5 linked regions of the Homo sapiens genome follow. The protein of the gene in region 5 purifies or fractionates together with the protein of the main gene of each other region. This does not show direct contact. Each region holds a gene or a part of one and is shown on either strand. Other genes may lie near its edges. The genes, in order: LEMD3, SURF4, TRAM1, ATL1 and SLC6A4.

The links.
Region 1: the proteins of SLC6A4 (region 5) and LEMD3 purify together in Homo sapiens (affinity purification with mass spectrometry; one large-scale study listed by BioGRID and IntAct). This does not show direct contact.
Region 2: the proteins of SLC6A4 (region 5) and SURF4 purify together in Homo sapiens (affinity purification with mass spectrometry; one large-scale study listed by BioGRID and IntAct). This does not show direct contact.
Region 3: the proteins of SLC6A4 (region 5) and TRAM1 purify together in Homo sapiens (affinity purification with mass spectrometry; one large-scale study listed by BioGRID and IntAct). This does not show direct contact.
Region 4: the proteins of SLC6A4 (region 5) and ATL1 purify together in Homo sapiens (affinity purification with mass spectrometry; one large-scale study listed by BioGRID and IntAct). This does not show direct contact.

The regions. Positions count from the first base shown.
Region 1 is NC_000012.12:65,217,678-65,221,986, forward strand, and holds part of LEMD3 (inner nuclear membrane protein Man1), read left to right. Parts: intron 1-874; coding exon 875-942; intron 943-4,309.
Region 2 is NC_000009.12:133,365,810-133,370,118, forward strand, and holds part of SURF4 (surfeit locus protein 4), read right to left. Parts: intron 1,735-4,309; coding exon of another isoform or gene 1,637-1,734; coding exon 1,450-1,636; intron 867-1,449; coding exon 790-866; intron 220-789; coding exon 176-219; intron 1-175. UniProt on the Homo sapiens protein: Endoplasmic reticulum cargo receptor that mediates the export of lipoproteins by recruiting cargos into COPII vesicles to facilitate their secretion.
Region 3 is NC_000008.11:70,598,032-70,602,340, forward strand, and holds part of TRAM1 (translocating chain-associated membrane protein 1), read right to left. Parts: intron 2,052-4,309; coding exon 1,988-2,051; intron 225-1,987; coding exon 103-224; intron 1-102. UniProt on the Homo sapiens protein: Involved in the translocation of nascent protein chains into or through the endoplasmic reticulum (ER) membrane by facilitating the proper chain positioning at the SEC61 channel.
Region 4 is NC_000014.9:50,558,396-50,563,218, reverse strand, and holds the start of ATL1 (atlastin-1), read right to left. Parts: upstream 3,075-4,823; 5' UTR 2,954-3,074; coding exon 2,920-2,953; intron 2,180-2,919; exon of another isoform or gene 2,093-2,179; intron 1-2,092.
Region 5 is NC_000017.11:30,211,548-30,215,856, forward strand, and holds part of SLC6A4 (sodium-dependent serotonin transporter), read right to left. Parts: intron 4,168-4,309; coding exon 4,064-4,167; intron 1,321-4,063; coding exon 1,193-1,320; intron 1-1,192.

The sequences.
Region 1 (4,309 bases), on a different chromosome or scaffold from region 5:
GAATTCGCTTCTTATCAACAATTAAAAGAAAAGATAAATGTAGTTTTCCAAAGATTTATATGAGCACATCCCTTTGTAGAAACCAGATCATAGGTGGAAACTTGTACCTGATTTCCCTGTTGGTCTGTTATAACAATTTTTGTTTTTTAAGATTTTTTTGAGACAGGATCTTTTCTGTCACTCAGGCTGGAGTGAAGTAGGGTGATCACAGCTCACTGCAGCTTCAAATTTATGGAGTCAAGCTGTCTTCTCGCCTCTGCTTCCCGAATAATTGGGACAACAGATGCATACTACCACACCTGGTTATGTTATAACAGTTTTTAAGGCATGCACACCCCTTGCTAAAGATAGGATTAGTTATACTCTGAAAATGCACATACTTTAATTCATTAATAAATTCAAACTTATTTGAACCCTTAAATGATTAGCTTTAAGAATAGATGTGTAAGTTAAGTTAGCACAATGAATATGCTGAATTTTTTCCCTTTTAGGAATAATACATATTTCTGGAGGGCGTCTTGTGTGCCAAGATCTGTGGATAGGCATCAGTGTGACATAGTTCCTATACCAGCTTACAGTTTAGTTGGGAATATAAGAGGAAGATAAGTTCTTGTTTGGACTGAAATGCATTTAAAAGTTGTGGTTAATGTAATGGTAGTTGTTTGTTTATATTCTTACTGGAATTTCTTTGTTTATATTCTTACTGGAATTTCTTCTAGAAATTATAAATAATATTGTTCATGTTCTTTCTTTACTGATTATAATAATATAACCTGTAATTGTATAATGTATAAAATATTTGAATTAATTATGTTTGTTTTCTTCTGTTTAAGAGAGTACTGATTCAAAATTAATAATATGCTAATCTTTCCAGGAGATCATGAATGTGGCAGTTCTAGTCAAAGAACGCTTTCTGTTCAAGAGGCAGCTGCGTATTTAAAAGTAAGCAATGAAATTAGAATTTTAATAGCTATATTTTAAAAAATTATATAAATCATTGCTACTTGTAAGAATCATATGTTTGATTATTTTAATTGTACTGTTAAAAGCTTGGGCCTGCTGTTTGGTATAATATGAGCAGTTATGAGAAAGTAAAATTGTTCAACTTTTTTTTTTTTTTTTTTTTTGTGAGACACAGTTTCGCTCTTGTTCCCCAGGCTGGAGTGCAATGGCTGATCTCGACTCACTGCAACGTTCGCAACCGGGGTTCAAGCGATTCTCCTGCCTCAGCCTCGCGAGTAGCTGGAATTACAGGCACCCACCACCTCGCCCAGCTAATGTTTTTTGTATTTTTAGTAGAGATGGAGTTTCACTATGTTGGCCAGGCTGGTCTCAAACTCCTGGCCTCAAGTGATCTGCATGCCTTGGCCTCCCAAAGTGCTGGGATTATAGGCGTGAGCCACCTGTTCAATTTTTTTTAGTTTGTTTTAGAACATTCTCTATGAGAGAATGCATATTAATTTGGAAAGGGTACAAAGAAACATTGGTCATAGGGAAATTGAGATAGGTGAGTAGTAGCATGTAAGAGAGCAGGTAAATATCTAACCATTTATTTAAAATCTTCTGTCCCACATCAGTTTCTTCTCCAAATACTAAGAGAACTTGCTGTTGAATTTTCTAAACTACTGTAAATAATTTCTGGAAAATCTTAATGAAAGGTAGTAAAAGATTAAAGATGGATAAATGTCATTCTGATTTCTCAGAAGTGGAAAGTGGCATTTGAAAACCATACAGGAAAGCTTGTTGTCGGTCCAGTTCCATAAAGATAATTTCATAAAGATCTGAGTTCTTGCAAATGGAAACGTTGATCCCTGGAAGGTGGCTGGCATTTGAACGTGGACAAGTCATGCCATACAAATTTCATGCCTCCCATCCCCTTGTTAAAATTGTGGTAAAAAATATATAACGTGAAATCTGTTAACATATTTTTAAGTATACCGTACAACTATATGTGCATTCTTATACAGCAAATCTCTAGAACTTCTTCATCTTGTATGACTGAAACTCTATAGCCATTGCACAGCAGGCCCCCGTTTTCCTCTGCTCCATATCCCTGGCAACCACCATTTTACTTTCTTCCTCCATCAGTGTGATTAACAGATACCTCATATAAGTTGAATCCTGCAATTTTTGTCCTGTGACTGGCTTATTTCACCTAGCATAATATCTTCAAGTTTCATCCATATTGTAACATGACAGTACTTCCTTCATTTTTTAAGGCTGAGTAGAATTTCATTGTATGTATACATATATTTTCTTTATCCAGTCATGTTGATGGGCTTTTAGATTGTTTCCACCTCTTGGCTATTGTGAATAATTCATCAATGAACATGGCAATGCAAGTACTTCTTTGAGACTCTACTTTTAATTCTGTTAGACAAATACCTAGAAGTGGGATTGATAGATAATATGGTAGTTCAACTTTTTATTTTTTGAGGAACCTCCATACTGTTTTCATATTGACTGTACCATTTTACATTCTTTCCAATAGTATAGTAGGATTCCAGTTTCTGCCTATCCTTAACACTTATTTGCCTTATAGCTCACTGTGTTTTTATTTGTGTTTCCCTGATGATTACTGATGTTGAGCATCTTTTCATATACCATTTATATACATATACATCTGTGTGTATATATAGCATGTATACAGCATATATATAATACCTTATCTGTTGGCCATTTGTATATCTTCTTTGGAGAAGTGCTATTCAAGTTCTTTGCTGATTTTTAAGTTGGGTTATTTATTTTGTTATTGAATTGTGGGGGTTTCTTATGCATTTTGCATATTAACCCCTTGTCAGATATATGGTTTGCAAATATTTTCTCCCATTCTGTAGGTTACTTTTTCACTGTATTCACTGTTTTTTTTTACTGCACATATGCTTTTTAGTTTGATGTAGTCCCACTTTTCTGTTTTTGCTTTTGTTGCCTATGCTTTTGGTGTCATGTCCAAGAAATTATTGCCCATATCAACGTCAAGAAGCTTTTCTTCTATGTTTTCTTCAAGAAGTTATATAGTTTCAGGTCTTACATTTAAGTCTTTAATCCATTTGGAGTTGATTTTTGTGTACGGTATAAGATAAAGGTCCAGTTTGATTCTGTTGCATGTGGAAATCCAGTTTTCCTAGCACCATTTATTGAAGAGATTGTCATTTCTCCATTGTGTAGTCTGGCACCCTTGTAGAAGATTGTTGGATCATACATCAGTGGCTTTATTTCTGGTTCTCTATTTTGTTCCACTGGTCCATTTATGTCTATTATTATGCTAGTACTATACTGTTTTGATTACTATAGTTTTGTCATATGTTTTAAAGTCAGTGTGAGGCCTTTGTGGTTCCATATGGATATTAGGATTATGTCTTCTATTTCTGCAAAAAATGCTATTGGGATTTTGTATTGCTGTATTGCCTTCGGTGGTATAGTAATTTGAGTAATATTAAGTCTTCCAATTCACGAACATGAGATGTCTTTCTATTTATTTGTGTCTTTTATTTCATTCAGCTTTTTTTTTTTTTTTTGTAGTTTTCAGTGTATAAGTCTTTCACCTCCCTGGTTAAGTTTATTCCTAAGTATCTAAATCTTTCTAATGCTATTATAAATGGGATTATTTTCTTAACCTCCTTTTCAGATTGTTGTTAGTGTATAGAAATGTAACTGATTTTTGTATATTGATTTTATATCTTCCAACTTAGCTGAATTTGTTTATTCTAACAAGATTCTTTTTAGTAGAGATAGGGGCCTTGCTATGTTGCCCAGGCTGGTCTCAAACTCCTGGGCTCAAGTTATCCTCCTGCCTTGGCCTCCTAAAGCACGGATTACAAGCATGAGCCACCACACCCAGCCAAATAACAAGATTTTTTTGGTGAAATCTTTAGGGCTTTCTATGTATAAGATTATGTCACTTGCTAAGAGAGATAAATTTACTTCTTTCTGATTTGGATGTTTTTTATTTCTTTTTCTTATCTAATTGCTTTGGCTAGGATGTCTAGTGCTATGAGAGATAGAGATGGGAAAAATAGCCACCCTGGCCTTCTTCCTGATCTTAGAGGAAAATCTCTCTTTTTTTTTTTTTTTTTTCCTTGAGACAGAGTCTCACTCTGTCGCCCAGGCTGGAGTGCAGTGGTGTGATCTCTGCTCAATACAACCTCCACCTCCTGGGCTCAAGCGATTCACATGTCTCAGCTTCCTGAGTAGATGGGATTACAGGTGTGTGCCACCACACCTGGCTAATTTTTTTGTATTGTTAGTAGAGATGGGGTTTCACCATGTTGGCCAGGCTGGTCTCGAACTCCTGACCTCACGTGATCCA
Region 2 (4,309 bases), on a different chromosome or scaffold from region 5:
TGGCTGAGCATCCCAAATCTGAAAATCCAAAACCTGAAATGCTCCAATGAGCACTTCCTTTGAGCGTCATGTTGGTGCCCAAGATTTTTCCCATTTTGGAGCATTTCAGACTTTGGATTTGCAATGCTCAACCTGTAGAAGGAGCGTATACTAAAACCAACCAGAATGCACATACCTCATCAAAAACTTCAAGTCCCATAAAATGCTGTAGGCAATCGTCTGAGGGGAAAGAAGAGAGAGATACTTGAGTCTCAGCCTTTCCAAAGGCATTTCCACAGACTTCATAATACATTAGGCCGTCTCTCCAATGTCAGCTGGAGTCTAAAACACACAAAACCATTGTAGGAGACCGAGGACAGATCTAAGCTCAAAAATGTGGTTCTGTATTTCTCAAGAAATGTGCTATGATGTTCCAGAGAACAAAGTGATTCTGAGACCACTGATGTGGATTCAGATATTCTGTTCCCAGCATTTCATTCTGAATAACCAAGTATTCTTCTTTATGAAGCAACGTGATAACAAGACAGCATCCTGGCTGCAGCCAAGCTCGAGACTTCCCTTGTCACGGTAATCATAGAAATGGGACAAAAGATGGCCCAGTACCGAATGACCTGCCTCTACAGCCCTGCTTGGGCTCACGACTTCCCCAGAAGAGAAAGGAGCTCCAGGCAGTCAGAGACATGCAGGGGGCTGAAGGGGGAGTGACACTGAACCCTCAAGGATGTCTTTTCAGAAGCTCTGCTCCACCAGAGCAAAGAGAAGGGAGCCCCGACCACGCGGCCCGTGTACCTGCAGAGCTATGATTCCAAAGAGCCCGAAGCAGGCGTACTGCACGAAGTTCCTGCTCAACACCAGGACGCAGCCAGCTGGAGAGAAGGACAAGGGTTAGGGGGCCTGAGGGTGGGTGCCGGCGGGGAGCACTGTCTTGATACACTGCTACCTCACCTGGCCCTTAGGTCCAGAGGCAGCCAAACCACCTACCCAAGCAAAAGACAACTTCTGGAAGAATTAATGATAGGCAAGGACCACACATGGTAAGCTGACTAGACTTATCACAAACACCAGAAAGTGGAGCCCTTGCCGTCATAAAGAATGGGCTGTTTCCCACAATCAGCTCCCAAGTCAGCCACCCACCTGAGGTAGGCAATTAACTGCTCTACTGTGGACTGCCAGCCAGACTCCAGCATCTCCTGCTTTGGGTCCCTGACAGGGACCATGTCCTATTTCCTTAGCAAGCTCTAAAGCAGTGAGCTCAGGGCTAGAGACTAAGCGTCCCCACCAAGGCTTGCAGAACCGGACTCCTGGCCTGGCACAGCTGAGCTGGAGAAGAGGGGAATGGAGGGGGGACAGCAGTCCAGGAGACCCCCGAGTTCACACACAGCCTCCCAACTGCTAACGATCATGGAACAAGACGCCCAGTGAATCCTGACCACCCGCAGAGCCACTCACTCAGCTGTCCCAGCAAGTTGAGGAAGACGAAGGACGAGGCCAGCAGGTAGCCGCAGTTCCAGGTGGTGTCGATGTAGTCGCGCTGCTCGCTCCACTGGAACCACATACGGATGCCGTCCTCCAGGAAGGTGCTGATCAGACAGAGGCGCGCCACGTGGGGCAGGTACTGCTTTGTGACACGGAGGAACTGCAGGGCCACAGAAACCCAAGGGTGAGGTGGCTGCGGCGGGGAGCACCAGGCCGCTGCCAGGCACGTCCTTGGGCGGGGTGTGTGAGGAACAGACGCTGTGGAAGGCAAGAGCTCTTGTCAGCCCCGGTGCCTTCCCAGGGCAGACTAGGGGGCTCTCAGTGCTTGCTCCTGAGCGCTACCCTGTGAGTCTGGACACATGCAACAATCCAAGGATCAGTCCCGGAGATGCATGACTTGACGTTAGGCCCTCTGGGGCAGATCCTATAGGGCAGCAGCCCTAACACTCTGCTACCGTGATTTCCCCCAGTGCCTCGGCAGGCAACTACAGTCTTCCAAGGTGGCACTGCCACAAGACACAGAGCTGCTCTTTTCGGTCAAAGGCATTTACAAGTTGGAATCACAGAATGACATCTGAAAAGGCACTTAGAGGTCATCTATCCAACGTTTCTGCACCTCAGCACTACTGGCATCTGAGGCCAGGCCACTCTTTGCCGTGGGTCATCCTGGGTGCTGCAGGCTATGACGCACGACATGTCTGCCCACGACATGCCAGCAGCAGCCTCCCTCCTGAGGCACCGCTGCACTTTGCCAGGCATCTCCGCTGCTCTGGTCCAACCCCTCACCTTACAAATGGCTATATTAAACCCAGCGGGAAGGGGTTCCCCTAGGCTTCGCAGACCTGATGGTGCAATGCCAAGACTTGACCCCAGCCTGCAGGTCACACATGGCTGAGGTGCCAAGGGCCTGGACCTCCCAGCCTGCCCAGTGACGCCCAGAGTACCCTGACAGAACAAGGGTTGGCTTAGGTGACAGCCAGGGTGCCACACCTAGAGGGCCACATGGTTGACTGAATAGTAAGATCACGTTTACAGTTATCCGAAAATCTCCAGAGCAGCAGGAGGAGGCCCCAGGCTCTGGACAGCGCATGTGTGCTGTTGCAAACCAGGGCTGGCGCTTCCCAGCCCGACGGAGCTCTCCCCTGCAAGCTCAGGATCTGACGTGGGGACTGTGTGTGCAGCAACCGTCAGCGCAGCATGAAGCTGGTACCGCTAATGGCTAGAAAGCGCTGGGATTTTGTCAAAGCCTGCATAATCTCGAGCAAATTAAAACACACTAACAAATGGGATGGACAGCTGTTTCAACAGCAATGAAACGCAAGTGTGTGAAATCACTGTCAAATGTCAAAGGGAAAGAAAACATTTATGACTTCCTGCTGTGCTGTGAGTCAGGTCATTTATGACGGCTGGGTTAGGTAGCCAACATGCACTATCGGATGCCAGGTACAAATGTCACGCAGGTTCACCCCATGCACTTTTCTCTTATCACCCATGCAAAACTGAGATATAAAGTGAAAGAAATACTGTAACACAGCAAGTCCTTCGGAGAAAGATCAGGGGACCCATCCACCAACGCATGTTGGGAAGCCAGAGTCTAAAGAGCACCCGAGAGGCTGACCCCCACGGGAGGCGAGCGAACGTCAGCTGCACAGGCCTCCTAGGGCTGACTAAACCTACTGTTGGAACAAAGGAAGATATGCGTGTTTCTTATTTTTCAGCATTTTTAAAAGTTGCTTCAAAGTCCTAGACACTGCTGAAGCTGCCCATCTCAGTTACCACGCCCCTGGGTGTTCAGGTCACCCTCCAGCCTGTCAGGTGGGGCCCTGACTAGGTCAGCACTGCAGATTGGCTCCCATGTGGCAGAGAACGGAGGCAGAGATTACAAAGCCAGGTGGCCATTCTCCCCAAACCCACTGCGCCCTGCAGTGTCAGTTCTGCACACATTTACTCAGCCTTTGACTCCACGGAAGTGATGGGAGAAATCACAGTGACCGACAGATACCCAGAGAATCACCAAGTGGGTTTGGGAGATGAAGTGCAGGTGGAGGTTCTGAGGCCCTGTGATCTCATCCTGCCCTGGTACCATCCAGCCAGCACACCGTGTGACCTGGACACGCCCAGTTACTTTTTTGAGAGTGTCTCTACTATCCTGCAGTAGAGTGAGGCCACCTGAACTAATGGTTGGTAAGATGCTTTCCAACTTTACTAGGAGGAAGACCTTGTTTCACTTTTTATTTTTAAAAAGGCCCCAAATACTCCCCTGTGAATTTTAGGGCCAATGCAGAGAACCAGCACAAGATGCCCATGTGCACAGTGTGACGCAACCTGCATCACACTGGGTGGTGGGAAAGGTGACGCCACACACCCTCCCCAGGTTCTGCCTCATGGCCCCGTTGCTCTCTAAATGCCCAGCAACAGTGTAATCACCCATATTCCATGGAAGAGAGAAAGCACACCACCGTGGCACACGATGTGCCACTGCTCTCAAGGAATGGCCTCACATCGTGGCCCAGCTGGGAAGCCCCAGCAAGGACACAAGCCTTTATCTCATCTGAACCTGGGGAAAAGCAACCACTGGGAAGGAAGAGCTCAACAGGAGGCTGTCCAGACCTCTGAGATGAGACGGAGCCGTGGTGGGACTCCCAGGGCAGGGTGTGGGTGTGGGGCGTGGACCCCAACAGCAGCAGAGAGGTAGACTGCAATCCATACCCAAGACAGACACCAGAGGTGTTCTGACTTGCTTCTAAAATGAGAGCTGTGAGCCACTCACTGGCCTGAGATGAGCAAACCAGCCCAGCCATGGGCTGCGGTCTAAGCCTCCCCCAGTTGCAGG
Region 3 (4,309 bases), on a different chromosome or scaffold from region 5:
TAGTAATTAAGAATAAATTATAAATTATATTTAATATATGACTAGCAGATTATGGAGAGCTAGTACTTTATAAAGTATAGATTTCTAAGACTGCATACTTACATCCAACATATACTCTTGAATTACGGCATGAATAATTATCGCCACTAGCATGTAGAAGAAAACAGTAGCCAAATCTTTGATGCCATAGTAATAAAGGGACACTGATTCAGTAGCTTGTTCTTCTGAAGACCAAAAAGGACACAAATACACAAAAATATACACAAGGTTATAAAAACAGCATTAAGTACAACATAGTTATGGAAACAAAGAAGAATAACCTAATAAAAAAGTTCTATATTAACATCATAAATAACGTGGTCTTGGACATCTTGAGTCTTAGAGGGGCAATGAAAATCAAAACTATCTAGAAATCTAAAGCTTTAGAAATTACTTACAAAGACTTGACACATGTTAGTCACAGCCACCAAAGACCAAAAAACAGGGAAGAGGAGGCCACACTCAATAAACTGATATTATCCCAGGGGTATAAATTAGGTTGATAAAGTTATACTTAGCCTACTGACCTATTTTTTTCAAAGGGCTTTTGAAACTTTCTACTTCTACTTTCTAACTACACACTAAATTATGATTCTGATGAAAAAGCTGATTTGACCTGTATTTGATTTAGTTTTGATCTATAAGCAGCAGAGATAAAGGCAACTACTAAAGTTGTTTTTAATCCTTGCAATTGCTATAATTTTTCAAAACAAATCTTTATCAAATACTTGTGAATTGCTGACACTTATTCTCAAACTTTATGTTTATGGGGAACATATACATAAAAGAGCTTTATTCTTCTCTGGCATATTCAAATTTCAAAACAGTATTGTAGTTTTGAGTAACCTGATAACTAAATCACTAAATTAAATATTTACAAAACTGTACATAACTGAACAAAAACCCAACTCAGGGGCTAGATGCAGTGGCTCACCCCTGTAATCCCAACACTTAGGGAGGCAAGGATTGCTTGAGGCCCAAATTCAAGACTGACCTAGGTAGTATAGTGAGACTCCATCTCTATAGTAAATTGAAAAATTAGCTGGGCGTGGTGGTGTGCCCTTGTAGTCCCACCTACTTGGGAGGCTGACCTGGGAGGATCATTTGAGCCCAGAAGCTGGAGGCTGCAGTGAGCTACGATCACGCCACAGCACTCCTGCCTAGGTAACACATTTGGCAAGACCCTGTCATCTCTTAAAAACACACATATAAATAACAGCAACAACAACAAAAAACCCCAACTAAATGTGGTATACTATATTATCTTACATTCTAAATAAAAAACTGTGCAGGTTTACTGCCTCAACCAAAAAATACCCCATCCCTCACCCATGCTAGTTAATTATATCACTGTATTAAATTACAATCAACTTCCAAGAAACACCTAATTTTTACATAGATTAAGAAATAAGATTTTTGAAATAAAACCTAATAGTTTGGATGCTATTACCAGATAATTCCTAGAGCTTACTAACACATTTTCTGGAATCAAAATAATTGTTAAAAGTAGAGCACAGGAAAAAGTGAAAATAATCTTAGAAGGATTGATTGCTATTACAGGTCCAAAATGTAACTTACAGAAAAACTAAATCTGCCATTGTGCTTTTAGAAGTCTTGAATGAACAATGACATTTAAACAATTTTAAAAAGATCTTTTCTTATAATTTTCTTAGGAAAAAATCAGAAAGCAGAGAAAGCAAAACAAAATTATTTTATGGAATTTCAAGTCCATTCACAAAAATATATAGTAAACAGAAAACATATACAGGGTAAAGTCAATCAAAAACATCAGATCTTGTATTATAAAATCATCACAATAACATTCAGTCACATCATGGATGAGATCTCTGACGATTAATTAACGCAGGACCTAGCATTCATGAAAATTTCCAAGTTTGTTCAACTGAACTTCTATTTACGTAGAAAATTCTTAGCGTAAATTACCTACCTGTTGCTGGGAGGGTGACATTGTACTGAAGAGTAACAAAAATGATAGAAGCTTTTGCCGTTATCTACAAAGAAGGAAAAACAAAGATCAAGTCAATTTGTGACCCTCTCCCAAATAACAGATCGGGGCAAAAACATTATAAAATCTGTCCCTAAATCGAAGCACCAAGGGCCTCCTCGTTCCTGTGGAATCCTGACAGACACAATGGAAATTACTGATTGCCAAGGAGCTAATGTAATTCACTAGAGTACTCTTCTGCGGTTTAGGTAAAATTGTGTAATTCATCCTTAATTTTAAGATTTCAAAAGACATTTTCTGCAGTTCCAGAAAACAGTTATTTGACAAATGATGATTCTCTACTCTAGCCCTATACAATGAATAAAAAGTTCCTATTAAGACAAATTTCAAGTGTAAATTAATAAAATAAAGAGAAGCACAGTTAGCATGAGAAAAGCAGATCAAATATAGGGTCTGTGGTGTGGGTGTGTTAGTATCCCACACACCCAGCAGAGTTAAGTGGTCAATAACTGTTTAACTGACCTGACTACTGGTAAAAGTAAACTGGTCAGAGCAGAAAAATGGAATGCTTACCCAATCTTTACAGGCACCAGGCAAAGTGCTAGACAAAAAAGGACGAGATGAAGATGGATAAAATAATCCCTAATGACAAGGAGCTCCGTGGTGTGAAAAGTACAGGTAAATAAACTGTTATAATACTGTAGAATAAGTGCCAATAGCTTGCACTGTGGGTACTTGGGATAAACAATGAGCTTTGTTGGTTTTTTTTCTGGGGTGGAATGAAATGAAGGAGCTGTGTTTTGCTGGAAAATAGGTGTTCCCTAGGTTCACAAAGGGGGATGAAGAGGACAGTACAGATAGAAGAAACAGAGCGTGGCAAGATCAAGTAGCAGTGAACACAAGGCCAGGCACAGGATGCACATCAGGAAGCGTTAGAAAAGACTAGAAACATTATTGAGTGCTAGAAAGGACTCTGTTTTTTGAGCTAAGTAGTTTAGATTTCACTTTCGCACAAGTGGAGAATGTTGAGGACGGGAAAGTTCATTTATGCCTTTTAGAAGGATTGCTCTCTGTGACCTGCTAAGTGGTATCCCAGGCCCCTTCAGATCCATTCTCCATATTGCAACTAGAATGATTTTCTCATCATGTTACCACATCCCCCTCCCTACCTGCTAAAAATCCTTCACTAGATTCCCATCTTTCTAGGAGAATGTGACCATAGGACTCTATGGTCTGACTCCTCTCTCTGCCTCTGCAGCACCTTCTACCACAGGGTCTCTGCACATGCTGTTCTATCTAAAATACGGTCGGAAAATATTTCCCATCAGATCTCAGTTGCATTACACCTTTTCAAGGAAGTCTCCCTGTCTTCCTAGAGTAGGTCATTTCCTTTGTTAGATTATCTCAGAGAACTGTGTTCCTTTCCTTCAAAGGCATACTCTGGTTGATTATATTAATAATTTCTGTCTCGCCCATTAGAAAGTAAGCTCCATTAGAACTGGGATCATGCCTGTTTCCACTCATCACTATATTTCAGAGCCCAGCATGGGGCCTGGTACATATTAGGTAATTAATCAATATCGCTGAATAAATATCAGTTAAAAGTACAAACCGGAGTGAGCATGCAGCCAAGAATGAAACTTCTGCAAGAGACCACATGAAAGATAATGAGACCTGAACTAAGACAGTGACTGTGGGATACAGGAGGCACTCATAAGGCAAAATAAGGTTTGGTAAGCTAGAAGAAAGAGTACAAGGTTATTTATTGATGCCTACAGCTGAGATTTCTGGGAGATGAGCAGTAAGGCAGCTAAAACCTAAGTCTAGAACTCAGTAGGGAGAACCTAGCTTAAATAAAGATTTGGGAGTCTCTTTCTACAGATAATAGCTGAAGCTGTGAAAATACATAAATCATATATGGAGAGTGCACAGTATTTGTAGAGAAGTAGGACAACATCAGACCCATGGAGAGAACAGGGAAAAAAGCAAAACTTCAAGTCACTGAAACTAAGAAAAAATGGTTAGAGAGACAGAGAAAGAAATAAAAAGAGCTTGTAGTCCCAAAAGCCAAAGGGGAAACATTTCTAAAAGGTGTGGTTAATAAAGTCAAAAGTTTCAAAAGAGATGTGGGAGGAAAGAGAACGATAGACTGGACAATTTAAGAAGTCATCAGTGGTCACAGCTTGAGTGATTCCAACTAAGTAGTGAGAGCAGGAGCTGCATTGCAGTGGACTGAAGAACACAGAGGCACAAGGTGGTATCCAGTAGATGCCAGGTCAAATTTTATGTTGTTTTCAGGATAGG
Region 4 (4,823 bases), on a different chromosome or scaffold from region 5:
TTTTTTCATCTGCAAAATAGTGATATGCCCTAAGACACATACTTAAGAGGTTGAAGATCAAATGCAATAATGCAGATGAATATGCATTGAAACTGTAGTTCTATAATATAATACAGAAGGTATTATCCATTCAACAAAGAGATAGAAGATAAAGGAATCTGAATTCAAACTGCCAGAGCAGGAATCCTGGGTCAATCATCTACTAGCTTTACCTTTTAATATGTAAAATGAGTATTACAGCACCTATTTCATATGACATTAGCTTAACGATGTTGGCTACTATTGCTGTTACTAAATGCCTACTGTGTTAGGCATTCTATTAGATACTGGTAATAAAATGGAATTAAGACTGACAGGGCTAATATCTGTGCCAAAACCTCTATCTCCTACTCCATCTACTACATTTTCTAAGTCATTTATGTCATATGTACTTAACAGCAAAGAAAAATCTAAGTAGTAAAGCATTTCCATAGAACATCAAGATAAGAGTCCAGAATTCCACTCTTTCTTTTCTATAATAATTTCCAGTAAACACTATAGTGATTCTAGTATTTCTTTTCCTAATCCATCACTTGAGTTGAAACTTTCCTGATGACTTCTGGGTAAACTATCTGAGATGTTTCTATCAAATGTAAATAATCTAAGGTAGTATTTCTCAAAGTAACACCTAAAGACCATCTGCTTCCCAATCACCTAAAATGCTAATTAAAAGGCAGATTTCTAGGCCCTCTTTCAGATCTATTGATTCCAAAGCTCTGGCTGGAAGATGGGAGAGTCTGCATTTCTAATAAGTCCCTGTGTGATTTTTATGAAAACCGGATGTGAGAACCATGTTCCCAAGAGGGAAAAACTCCCACTACATAAGAAGTTTATAAGGCCGGGAATGGTGGCTCGCTCCTGTAATCCCAGCACTTTGGGAGGCCGAGGCGGGCGGATCACGAGGTCAGGAGATCGAAACCATCCTGGCTAACATGGTGAAACTCTGTCTCTACTAAAAATACAAAAAATTAGCCGGGCACGGTGGCAGGCGCCTGTAGTCCCAGCTGCTCGGGAGGTTGAGGCAGGAGAATGGCGTGAACCCGGGAGGTGGAGCTTGCAGTGAGCCCAGAAGGCACCACTGCACTCCAGCCTAGGCGACAGAGCAAGACTCCATCTCAAAAAAAAAAAAGTTTATAGCCAAAGGAAATTCTGCGCAATAATGATCCAAAGCTTCATAAAGGAGAAAAATTTTAATCCTCAGAATACATTTTCACATGCTTCTGTTAACAGGGTGGAGACAACAATTCATGGAGACTGAGACCAAAAGTGACTTGAATATACGCACCCTAATTGTGTGTGTTCAATAAATTCCTATTCTAGAGGCCAAGAGAACGGGTGGAAAGGGGATACACTGCAAATGCTTACTTAAATTTCAGAAGAAGGAAATAAAACTTATTGCAATAGTCAGGTAGGTCTGTTAAAACTGAAGTTTCATGATCTCAGAAAATGGAACCACTTTCTCTTAAACTCAGCTAAGTCATGACAGACCTCCCCGCTCCAACTCTCCATGCCTACCACAAACCTTGGATAATCTCCCAAATGTAAACCTTGTCTACCGTATCCTGTGACCATTAGAACAATCAGAGGCAAGGAGATACACGGTCTTTTGATTAAAGTAAACTGAAATAACCAATTAAAATTTACATTTGTGCCTCTCGCTCAAATAAACAGTTATAGAAGAGCTCTCACTGAGATGTGGAACAGAATCAAGCAGCTCTGAACTTTTCAAATAATAACAACTGTTATTTCCAAATAACAATTTCTAAATAACAAGCTGATGAACAAAATATTTATTTACCCACCAAGCCACAGTAGCCTGAGACATTCTCTGGTTCAGATAATAAAATAAATGCCTTAGAGGGCTTTCGTTCCTAAGATGCTGGTGAGTTTAGCACTGTGACTGCAAGAAATCGGGAACCTACGACAAAAAGACGCCCAGCCTGCCCACACTAACCGTCCAGAACTAGGTCTGGAGCAGCAAGGCGGGCGGGGCCGCGATTTCTTCCGCATCGCTGCGCCCGTTCTTCTCCGCCTGCGTGAGCACCGCCCACCCACTCGCGGTGTGAACATACTGGGTCTCGCCTCTCCTTTCCCCTCCCCTCGGCCTGGTGCTGAATCATGAGCCCAATGTCTCCAAAAGGTAAAATCAAAGAACAAAGCCACCCTTGGGGCTGGTCTGAATGGGGTACCACGTCGGGGTGGGGCAGAAGGCTGGAAACCACAACTTTGCTCTCCTTCTTCCCCAATTCCCCCACCCAACCCCCAAATTAAGAGGAGTACTGCAGTGCTCAGGAATTCCCAAGAGGGTGGCCCTTCTCCCAGTTGCTCGGTCTGCTACCGTCCGTCCGGGACCCGGCGCGCTCCGCCTCATTGTTCCAGCGCGCCGCCCGCCGCCCGCCGCCGGGAGCCCGCGCCCTGCAGAGCCAGCGAGTTGGCGGCTCCCGGGGAGGGGGGTTGGGGCTTGGCCTGCTCTAGATCCCCGACCCCTCGCCCCTCTGGGGCCGAGTAACAACAGCCCCCTGCCCACCCCCATAGCCTTCCTCCCAACCGATCGCTAAGGCGGAACCCACAAGTCCCCGGAGGCGCCTGGTGGGTGCTGTCCAAATGCTGGGAGGAGGCGGGAGGGGGGTGGGGAAGAAGGAGCTGGAGGCCCGGCCTGCGCGAAGCTGCAGCCCTCACCCCGACAGCGCGATTCGGTGACGCGGGTACCGCTCGGCCATGGTTCCTCCGCCCAAACAGGGAGCGGCTCGGCTACGGCCCGTCTCCCAGCCGTGGACGCAGGCACCTAGCAGCCCTTGGCCCTCCCTGTCTCCACAGAAGCAGAAAGTGGAGGGCCAGAAGACCCCGTGCAGGCTGCAGAAGTTCTCATTTGCTACTCACCCCAACTGTTTCTGTCCCTGCGGTTCTTGGCCATGGTGGTCCAGGAGCTGGTGGCGGTGAGGCGCTGTCACTGCGCTCGCTGCCTTCTCCGGGGCCGCAGGTTGCTGGCGGTGGGAGGCTCCGTGCCCGCGCTGGGCGCAGTTCGCTCAGACTCTGAGGATGTTGCTGTGGCGCTGGTGGGAAGGAGTGGGGAGGAAAAGGGAGGAGAAAGCAGATGAACCAAGCTCAGCATCACAAGCCCGAGTTCACACAGATACCAGCGTCACACCCTCCCTACCTCAGTCCACCCCCAGACCGTGAAGACAGTGATAGACCACGTACCGCAACATTTTCAACGGAAAACACAAACAAATAAACAGCACCCCCCTCGAACACACTCTCAAAGAATTTAACAGCGTTATCAGAAATACACAAACCGATATACTGCATGATTCTGGATGTTCAAATACCTGTTTCAAGCACGGTTATACATTAGTACAAACAAGCTGGCAACATTTATATAGCCAAAGTAGCTAAAATAATGTGCATTTATCTACGAGGCACCCATTTTTTTTTCCATTTTAAAAGCAAGGTCATGTTAGTAAAGAGGGTATCATGCATTTTTGTATATGTATACTGAGTAGTTTGTCTTAAAATTAGAATAGCAAAATTTATATCAAGAAGATCAAGATAAATGAAAGCTGTAGATTCATTACGATCTGTAACTCAATATCCACTGGGTAAAATTTCCCACTAGATTTGCAAAGATAAGGTCCAGACCTATAGTCCAATAGCAATTATTTGAGCTGAAATCATACTACATAGTCTGGGTATGGGTGGGCCCTGGCAGCCATAAAGGTTGCAGACAATTTTGAAAGGAAAAGAAAAAAAATAAAAATACTTTCAATCTTTCCCTTTTCACTGCTTTCTCTCTGCTACAAACTTAGTTGTTTTCAGTAACCTGGAAACACTGTCCCTTTATACTACCTCAACCTCAAGATACCATCATGCCGTCCCTTACAGTTTCCTTCTGCCATTTGGTTGTTACTCACACTCTGTACTGATCGGTTCTTAGGAGATCACTGCCAGCCTCTTAATTACCAGATCCATGATCTCTGCTAATTCCTCATGGTAAGCAACTCCTCACGCTACACTCTCTCAATGTAATTTACTATGATGGCTTCAGACAGGACCTCCATGCTGATGATTCCCAAATCTATACTTGTAGTCTTCTGCCCTCTAGAAGAGAGGACATTATACCAGAGGTGTGTTTATAACTGCCTAAGGTTATCCTCACGTTGTTTTCCTACTGACATTTGAACATCAACATATCTGAAAACAAACTCCCCCACCACTGCCAAATCTTATGCATTATATTTCAGTTACTGGTTCTAGTGACTGCAGAGTCGTGAACACTGTAACCAAGTTTACAACATGGTTTTAAAGAAGTCTGTGCTCAACAGAGTTGAAATGACATTAATGAAACAACATAGGAAGACAGACATTATCTCATCCTTATACCTATAAACCAAGTTCATAGAACAAAAGAGAAGTGTGGTCTGCTTTTCTTCTTATATTCCTTTACTATCATTCTCAGCTTACATTCCAGCCTGAAAATCCCTTTCATATGAATCCCATTTTTAAGAGTACAATAGATTACACACAAAAAAGAAAAAATTTATATAATTCAACACCTATGCCCAATTGAAAAAGAAATTAATTTTTTAAAAACCTGTTGTGTTTATAATTAGTAAGTAATCTGCAGGTGAATACTTTGAGACTGTGTGAATCACAAAAAAATGCTTAAATAAATAGCTCTCTGTATGTGACTTTTTGTACTATTGGCCAATAACTTTTCATCCACTGATTTTAGCATCCATTGATCCTTGCCTGAATCAATTTCATATTAGTGATTTTTTAAATGG
Region 5 (4,309 bases):
GTTTTGACACACACCAAGTGCGTCCTCACACTCTACTCCGTCTGACGTGGCCACCCCAGTTCCTGGGAGGCAGGAAGGGTGGGGCTTCCATCTTGAAAACTGTGTGCCCTCCATTAACCCTGGGGGTGGGTAACAGATCCAAGACCCAGAGACTGGCAAAGCTGCACATGAGAATAAGAGTTTCCACCATATAACAATTCCATGGGATTTCTCAGGACCAGGATTGATATTTCTAAAGTCCATGACAGTTAGCCCCCTCTGATGTCTTCAGCTTCAGAACAGTAGGAAATGTTAAATTGATTTCCGTAGAGTCACAGAGGCTTTGGAATAAAGACCTCTTTCTATTTTAAAGTCCCTTTTGAAAGTGTGAGGGACATGTCTTCAGCCTCTCATGGGTTAGCTAGGGGTGCCCTCGTTTGGGGTATGGGGTTGGTCAAAGCACCGAATCAGGCCAAAGATACAAGCATGCTAACATGCTTGTAACAAGAAGGCCCTGGGACCTCGCCCACTAGATGCCATCATCTGTTTTTTCTCCCTCTGTTGCTCTTTTCTTTTTCCACAAAAACTTCACGGTAAAATAGAGTGGTCATATTGGCTAGATTTTCTTTTTCTGCAAGGGGCAGTTCTAAGGATAAATGATATTTGCTTACTAGACTTTGAGCCATCACAAGACCATCACAGGAAGCAAACCCACTGGTTTTAAAGCCATCATCAGAGTCATCATTTCAAGCCCATAGATTTTGGAGGCCCCAGAACTGGGTGCCAAGGGAGTTGCCCTGTCCCTGCATGGCCTGAACACATGGAAAGATCTCTAAGGCATCGAGCTTCTCTCAAATCTTTGAATAAAAAATGTTTTGGAAACAGGGTCTTATTCTGTCACCCAGGCTGAAGTACAGTGGTGTGATCATGGCTCACTGTAGCCTTGACCTCCCAGGCTCAAGCAATCTTCCCACCTCAGCCTCCTGAGTAGCTGGGACTATAGGTGTGCACTACCATGCCCAGCTCATTTATTTTTTTATAGAGGCAGGGTCTCACTATGTTGCCCAGGCTGGTCTTGAACTCCACCATGCCCAGCCTTCTTTGGAAAATTTCAGGAACATTTAGAAATAAATCAAAAGTTAGATCTTTACAAAGATTCAAAGCAAAGCAACTCAGTAGGAGCAAGGGACCTGCATAGAACCCGAGGTCCTACCTGCGTCTTTGGCCACCTCAGACACATCTTCATTCCTCATCTCAGCCATGTAACCGAGCACTGTGAAGATGACAAATCCCGAAACGAAGCTCGTCATGCAGTTCACCACGCTGGTCACCAGGGCATCTCTGGAGGGGAAAACCCAAGGGGCCGCCTGAGACAGTTCCAAGATCAGGGGTCTAAGGAGCATCTGTCCGTGTGCCTGCCCTGCCTTAGACAGGGCGGCCACAGCAAGGACAAGCAGGCTGAACTCAAGGAACCTCAAGCCTGTCCCGGAGTCCCTTCGCCTTCTCCCAGAACCCAGCTGCCGAGGCCTGAAGCTCTGACTGCCATGACCACCACACATGGTGGAGGGAGAAGAGCAGTCAGGGGTGCTTTAAAAGGCAATCCTGCTAGCACAGACCTCTCCATTTCAAACCAGCCTTGTTCTGGAGCAGGGCCCAGGTTGGAGTGGGGGCCAGGACAGGGCCTGAGCCTCACATTTGTGAGATCCTCAGATTTAGGCTTTATCTTCAAACTAAGTCACAGACTGCCAGCCAGAGAGATACCCTCATTTTTTTTTCTTTTTTTTTTTTTTTTTTGAGACAGAGCCTTGCTCTATTGCCCAGGCTGGAGTGCAGTGGCTTGATCTCAGCTCACTGTACCCTCTGCCTCCCGGGTTCAGGTGATTCTCCTGCTTCCGCCTCCCAAGTAGCTGGGATTACAGGCGCCCACGACCACGCCTGGCTAATTTTTGTATTTTTAGTAGAGATGGGGTTTCCCCATGTTGGCCAGGCTGGTCTCAAACTCCTGATCTCACACTTTTAAATGACAGCCTCATCATACAACTGCAGGGTGGTGTCCCAGTGCAAGGCCACATTGCTTAGGGTACATGTGAATCTCCCTCCCACCTTTAAAAAAATCAGTTTTACAATTATCTTATGCATAGCACAAAGAGATTGATGGATGCTGCCATCTGTGATCAATTAAAATTAAGTCTAAAGATGATGGGTGACATTTATTTATTTATTTATTTATTTATTTTTGAGATAGGGTCTCCCTCTGTTGCACAGGCTGAAGTGCAGTGGCATGAACACAGCTCACTGCAGCCTTAACCTCCCGGGCTCAAGCAATCCTCCTGCTTCAGCCTCCTGAAGAGCTGGGACCATAGGCATGCACCACCACACTCAGCTAATTTTTAAATTTTTTGTAGAGATGGGATCTCACCATGTTGCCCAGGCTGGACTCAAACTCTTAGGCTCAAGTGATCCTCCTGCCTCAGCCTCCCAAAGGGCTAAGATTACAGGTTTGAGCAACTGCACCTGGCCCAGTGGGTGATATTTAAAACCATAATTGGTGTAACATTTCCTGTTCTGTTAAAATTTCTGAAATAGGATTTTGTTGCAAAAATTATGGCATTTTGGCTGGGCACAGTGGCTCACGCCTGTAATCCCAGCACTTTGGGAGGCTGAGGCAGGTGGATCACCTGAGGTCGGGAGTTGGAGACCAGCCTGACCAACATGGAGAAACCCCATCTCTACTAAAAATACAAATTTAGCCAGTCGTGGTGGCGCATGCCTGTCATCCCAGCTACTCGGGAGGCTGAGGCAGGAGAATCGCTTGAACCCGGGAGGCAGAGGTTGTGGTGAGCTGAGATTGCGCCATTGCACTCCAGCCTGGACAACAAGAGCGAAACTCCGTCTCAAAAAAAAAAAAAAAAAAAGAAAAGAAAAGAAAAATTATGGTATTTTGTGTTAGTCAAAATAATGTGATCATCATACTTTTTGTTTATACATAATACAAATAATCACATTACAATTTTTATTGTTAAACACATTGACTAGTTAAACCTAACTACTTAATTGTATGTTGCAGCTTTTTGTAAACTTGCTTTGCAATTTCTCTTTCTTTCTTTCTTTTTTTTTTTTTTTTTTGATGGAATCTCACTCTGTCGCCCAGGCTGGAGTGCAGTGGCACAATCTCGGCTCACCGCAAACTCCACCTCCTGGGTTCACGCCATTCTCCTGTCTCAGCCTCCTGAGTAGCTGGGACTACAGGCGCCCGCCACCACGCCCGGCTAATTTGTTTGTATTTTTAGTAGAGATGGGGTTTCACCGTGTTAGCCAGGATGGTATCGATCTCCTGACCTCGTGATCCACCCGCCTCGGCCTCCCAAAGTGTTGAGATTACAGGTGGGAGCCACCGCACCCCGTCTCTCTCTTTCTTTCTTTCTTTCTTTCCTTCCTTCTTTCTTCTTTCTTTCTTTTTCTTTCCTTCCTTCCTTTCTTTCTTTCTTTCTTTCTTTTTTCTTTCTTTCTTTCTTTCTTTATTTCTCTCTCTCTCTTTCTCTCTCTCTCTTTCTTTCTTTCTGGAATCTTGCTCTGTCACTCAGGCTGGAGTGTAGTGGCAAGATCTCAGCTCACTGCAACTTCTCGTGCCTCAGCCTCCCAAGTGGCTGTGCTTACAGGTGTGCAACACCATGCCTGGCTAATCTTTGTATTTTTAGTACAGACAGGGTTTCGCCATGTTGGCCAGGTTAGCCTGGAACTCCTGACCTCAGGTGATCCACCTGCCTTGGCCTCCCAAAGTGCTGGGATTACAGGCGTGAGCCACCATGTCCAGCCTCTTATTATTTTTATATACAGGAGCGCTGACAAAACCGAAGGGCATGGGGCCCCTCTCAGCCTGAGTGGCCCAGGTGAAGCCACGGCCTGGATGAGTGCTCTGGCCATGGGTGAGCTGGTCAGGGGCCTGCAGCACCCCTGAGGGGCAGTGGTATCAAGGCCTAAGCCTGGCCAGATTCGAGGCCGTCGGTCCAATCACCTTCCTCCACACTAGCTGACTTTCACTCACGCCACTTTCAAGCTTTGCTTGGGGACCCCAGATACTCACTGGTAGCAGTTGTTGTTGAACTTGTTGTAGCTAGCAAAAGCCAGCAGGACCCCAAAGCCCGGACCAAGAGAGAAGAAGATCTGAGCGGCTGCATCTATCCACACCTGGAACACAGCAGGGGTAAGGGCATGGGGTGAGGGGGAGACACAGGCTTACCCTGGCACCAACAGGGTCGCCACTCCTGCCTCCATGTGGCTAAGTGCAGAGGCAGAAAAACAGCTTTTAAGGCTCATTCCAGGCATAGCC